2 separate regions of the Homo sapiens genome follow, and region 1 is linked to region 2. The links come from fine-mapping of genetic effects on gene expression. A gene starts in region 2. The other region holds a variant in brackets. All regions are shown on one strand. Distances are between the middles of the regions. Region 1 overlaps TNFRSF11B (TNF receptor superfamily member 11b). Region 2 holds the start of COLEC10 (collectin subfamily member 10).

Region 1 (2,500 bases), 120 kb before region 2:
GGGACCTAGGATGATATAGCAACCAATACCTGAAATATTGCTGATTTGCTGTCAAGGAGGAAAAGGGAAAAAACAAACAACTTTGGGAGGGCTGTATACATCAACTATTAAGTGCTCTAATTTGTAAGTGACTTACATCATTTTAACTCATGAGTTACTGGCCAGAACTATTCACATTCTCCCCGACCCCATCCTCACCAGGAGGCTAGGATACACAATCCCACCAAGCTTCTGGAAGGCAGAAGAACTGGGAACAACTGGCAAAGAGCACAAACAAGTACATCATCCTCATAAACATTGCTCATGCTTTCTATTGGCATTTATTTTAGCACAATCTAGTTTTTTTTTCTTTTTTTTACATTTTTTACTGGATATTAAAAGAAGAGACAGGAAACAGAGCGTGGGTGCAGAGGTCTCTGTCTATCAGCCTGGTGTATTATTCAAGTGTAGTTGTTAATGGTCATGCCAACCTACCCATTATCATGCTTATTCTGCCTGAAGGTTTGACGTGTATTCCAAATAATGGTGTGCAGTTGTCAAGTACTTCCTTGTGAATACAAATTCAAAGAAAATTCCACTCAATGCATCTAAGGAGACTGCAAGTGACCATAATTATATCTCTTCAGTAAGTCCTGAGGGGATGTCTTGAACCTGGCTTTTAACTAAATGGGATATGAAAAATATGCACATTCATAACTTCTATGCATATTGGCTAAAGACAAGGAGAATGTGTCTCAGAATGAGAAAATCTTTTTTGGCTTAAAAGAATAATTTTTGACTCTAAAATATATAAGTCATACTACCTACTATCTAAAGGTAGGTAACATTTCAAAAGCTGCTTCATCTTGTGGTCTCACTGATTTAAATAGAATTTCTTATACATGAACCAATGGGGCAGAATAAACTTTGACAAAGGCAACAAAATAGAATATTTTAAAACATTCCTATAATGTTTTTTATAGACAAGTCTGTTTGATATTTGCATGTTTTGAGCGGGAAATAATGCACAA[T/TTG]TGTGTGTGTGTTTAATTCAGATGGCAAAATCTTTAAACTGCATCAGACCTTCCACATATGACCTATTCTAACCTCTATTTTAGAGATGCTGGAAGTAAGACCCATAGAAATGGTGTCACCCATTGGAGCTCAGAGACTAAATACAACTGAGAACTTTGGAACCTGGCTTTTAACTAAGTGAAATATGAAAAATACACACATTCATAACTTCTATGCATGTTGGCTAAAGACAAGAAGAATGTGTCTCAGAATGAGAAACTCTTGCCTCTCACCACTGCCATTGCAAAAGTATTGTCACCATGACCCACAACTGAATTGTTAAATTACATTTTTTGGTGATGGTGGTGGTGGTGAAATTGATGCAAATTGATGGTCAGGAGAATTTTTTAAGGAATAGAGTGCTGATATTCATATTTCTAAGAATAAAAGAAATCATTTTTTTGGAACAAGAAAGTAGTATTACATGGCAAGAGAACTGAGGTTTCTGGATCAAAGACCAGAGAAGAAAATTGGATTTACTAAAGGCAGCCACAAAGCTTAGATGAGTCACTGTCTTGTCTTGAATCTAAATTCATCTTGACACCTATTTTCCTATTTTATTGGTGATTATTGAAGAGGCTATTATAGAAAAGGTCCAGTCTGAATTGGAGTAGAAATCTTAAAGCTATTCATTTTATTTTTAAAGAAGATGGCTTCAAGGAAATTAAATATTTTAATAGGTATTAAGACTATAAATCTAGAGAGGTGAATTTTTTTAAAAATCACAACAATAAAGAGGTAAATCAAAGCCATTATCAGCACATTACTTTTTTTGGAAGGGCTTTAGGAATTACATTTCATTTCCTCTTGCATCCTCTATCCATTTATGGTGTGGCTGATTCAGGTGCTTCTGAGAAATTGGGGTGAAAAAAACTACTCAAGCACCTCGGAAATTATGCCAACTTGTAGATGGAAAGAACCATTTTAGTGTGTCTGTAGACTGTTCTAGCCTCAGAACGTTCATTTAGAGAGGCCAGGTAAATGTGAGAGAGAGTGGGTACCACTCAGTTTCTTAGCTAATGTGTTGTAACACTATTCTTATCCCTTACAACTGTCTAAAAGGATTCTTTTTTTAGACTTTCTCTGCTAGTTACCCCAAAATATTCTGTGGTAGTGAGTTCCAAAAACTAATTACATGTCACATAAAAACACCGTCCTTGTATCTATTTCAAGTTGGCCATACCTCACTCTTTCTTCTAGCATAGATAGTTTACGGATGTTCCTAGGATTTCCGATTCACTAGTTCCTGCTATTGTGGGTTGCTAAGTTTTATTTTGATTTTTGTTTTCTTTTCTAAACATGGCTGCTACTGCTGTTCATATTTGCATTTTGTTTACCAGACTATCGATATCAGAATTGTGCTCTGGGGGCGGCTTCACACTCTTCTCTCTTGGCTTGTGAAGTCATCCATCTCTATGGCTCCAAAAATCTTCTCTAGGCTGTTGAGACA
Region 2 (3,036 bases):
CTCCATCTCAAAAAAAAAAAAGAAAAAAGAAAAGAAAAAGAAAAAGTAATGTGCCTGCCTGAATCATCCTGAAAGTATTTCCCCATCTTCCCCATAGAAAAATTGTCTTCCACCAAACTGGTCCCTGGTGCCAAAAGGGTTGGCACTGGTTTTAGCCACCCGGCCGCTGGTGTAAGCCACTCAGTTTGTGGTGCTTTGTTATGGCAGCCCTAGGAAACTAATGCACCTGTATTTCTTGGATTGATGGTTACTTGTAACGACATCTCTTAGGGATATTTTTTCAGCAGTCAGTCTGTATCAGGATCTGTAAGGTCCTTCTTTTCCAATTTCAAGGAAAGCAGGTCCAAAATCCCTTTCACCTAACTCTTAGTTGAGATGCTGTTCAAGAATGGAGAAGGTAAGGGGCCTCTCCAATATATGTGATTCTGGTTCCAATCTTCCAATATCTTACTATGCCCATACTATTTGTACAGGTTATAGGTTTGTGGAATAGATAGAGATCCTGATCTCTGTATCTATATCTGTATCTGATCTACATACTCTACATCTAAATCTGTTGAGCTTTTTATGAAACATAATACCACAAGCTTTTCCCCCTTATTTTGTAAAAGACTTGCTGAAAACACCATTTTAATAAAATTGTCATGTCATACACTCTCATATATTTTACCGTAATTTGCCCACTGTTAACACGTTGTTAGGCAATTGAAGGCCTTTCGCCTTTCTGCCACATCCCTTCAAATGAAGCTTTGCCCACATTTCAGAATATTTCCTTGAGATAGTGTACCAGAAAGGCTAAAAGCTATAAACTAGGCCAAAGGTAATAAACATTTTAATATTCCTAATACTTATCACCAAGTTGCTTCACAGAAAAGCTGGTTGTTCTTTCCTTTTGAATTTAATCACAAGAGAATAATCTTGGTAGCAAGAGTAAGAAGGTCATGGAGGGCATTGGAAGCATTAGTGTTCAACAGGCACAAGCAGGTAATAAATATCACCTTATGAAAAGCTCAAAGCCATGCACGGTGTTTGCATAACATGTTGCTAACTGAAGACCTCTCTGGTTCACAACCTTTCTGAAACTCAGCGTTTAAATGCAATATAGCCTATTAAATTGTCAGCTCAAGTACTCAGCAGAAGGCATCTCTATCTTCTTTGTTCTTGGGGATGTTTCTACTGACATGCACACTGGAGTTCAGAGATAATTTTCAATAAACTGTTGTCACTTGAAAATAAACAGTCTGGACAATGTATGGTCCATTTGGAGCACTGAGAAAATAAACAACCTAGGGTATGCTTCCTTCCTGTCTCTGTAGCCCTTTTTGGAATGTGTGTTCCAAATACTTCCCCTTCTTCCCCAAAGCAGGAGGTTTTATTTAAAATAAAGCTGTTTATTTGGCATTTCTGGGAGACCCTTTTCTGAGGAACCACAGCAATGAATGGCTTTGCATCCTTGCTTCGAAGAAACCAATTTATCCTCCTGGTACTATTTCTTTTGCAAATTCAGAGTCTGGGTCTGGATATTGATAGCCGTCCTACCGCTGAAGTCTGTGCCACACACACAATTTCACCAGGACCCAAAGGTGAGGAAAGAAAACCACAATTTTCATGTATAATAAATATGATATCTTCCCTCATCTCTGAACCCCTTCCTAGATTTCAATGACTTTCTCTTCTCTCCTCCCTAGTTTCCTCCCATTTTCCTTCTATTTTGGAAAATCAGGATTTTCCAGATCTGGTCTGTTACTTATTTAAAGCTCTCCTTTGATGTTAGGTAAGAGGATGTTGGGAAGGGGAAACCCAGGACGGAGATCTGAGGGAACTTACCCAGGGCAGGGGGAAATTCCCTGTTCCATTCTGCTCCGGGGCAGATGCACAATCCAGGCATGAGTCTCCAGAAGCCCTTTCCTTCCTTAAAAGCACCTCTATTATTGCACTGTTTGTACTCTCCTCCTTTCTAATACTGATGCTGGTAAAGCTGTTTAAGCAAAAGGTCAGTAACATAAAACTTAAATCTTAAATATATATTTCATAAGTTAATGGGATCCTGAGTTCCAACGTAGAGGATGGAAACATTTTGTCAAGCATTGAAGGTAGTATATAAATGAACATTTCTTTATTTGGAAGTGTAGTCTCTGGGGCCAAATGCCTTCTGCTCAAGGATGGTAGAATATTGCAAAATGTTCTCAAGTACAGCCAAGGTCCAAATATGCTTTAAGCAACCAGTAGATTTTAAAAAATCTATTTTTCTGGTTTTAGCTTTCACCCTTTTGTTCTGAAAGTGGTCACTGCACTGCAGATTGGTGCTCCCTTATTAGTAATTCATGCTGTTTCTCCAGGCTATAGGGTAGAAGAATTGCAGCTGCCTAAAATTTTAAGTAGAAAAAAGTGTTTTTCCAAAAAACAAAATTCAGAAATACATTGCCCCATGCCTGTCAGTTATTTAAATGTGTATTGCTTAAAGTGCATTTTTCTTAATCACTGAATTAATTTTCCTCTAAGATTGCAATCCAAGTTTTAACCTTTGATACGATAAAATAAATGCTGTGAGGAACAATGAGAGCTTAGAGCTTCCAAATAATTTCTTGGGTGAATAAATGAATAATGCGAGGGCAAATGTTCAGAAAGAAAGTTTTGATTAGAAATAAAGTATTTGCTTAAAACCGTTACTGAAGTTTCCTTAGAGTATAGGAAACTTTAGATTATTCCTGGGGTGTCATGGGGGCATTGAAAATTAAAGTTTTCCTTGTCCCTGCAAATGGGAGAATCCATTTGAGAATAGCACTATTTTTTACCTAATAGAAAACTTCTCCCTTCCCATTTTCCCATTAGAAACCCTGTTAAAACTTCAAACAGTGGAAATCTCATTAACTTTCCTCCTGAGCATCTGCAGACATTATGAGATAATTACAAGCCAGAGTGTGACAAAATGAAGTGAGTGATCCTGGGGAGAGGGACTTGGGAAGCGGTGTTCTAGAACCGTGGGTTCTAGAACTAAGTCTGTTATGTTCTTGGGTGTGATTTCCTCTTCTTCAT

Evidence for each region. PIP is the estimated chance that this variant, and not a neighbour inherited with it, causes the effect.
Region 1: its variant is the best candidate, but not a certain one, in a credible set for the expression of COLEC10 in thyroid (GTEx, PIP 0.90).

Annotation. Positions count from the first base shown.
Region 1 is chr8:118,944,266-118,946,765 of GRCh38, forward strand. The region is part of intron 1 of TNFRSF11B (TNF receptor superfamily member 11b); the gene reads right to left. Among named protein-coding and RNA genes, the nearest start is that of TNFRSF11B, 6.4 kb to the right of the region's middle. The variant T/TTG (reference allele first, on the strand shown) is at 1,011.
Region 2 is chr8:119,065,847-119,068,882 of GRCh38, forward strand. COLEC10 (collectin subfamily member 10) reads left to right here and starts at 1,401. Exons shown (of 6, transcript NM_006438.5): 1 at 1,401-1,583. The coding sequence starts at 1,436. LOC101927513 (a long non-coding RNA gene) reads right to left here and starts at 2,936. Exons shown (of 2, transcript NR_134297.1): 1 at 1,828-2,936. RefSeq lists an enhancer at 1,376-2,575.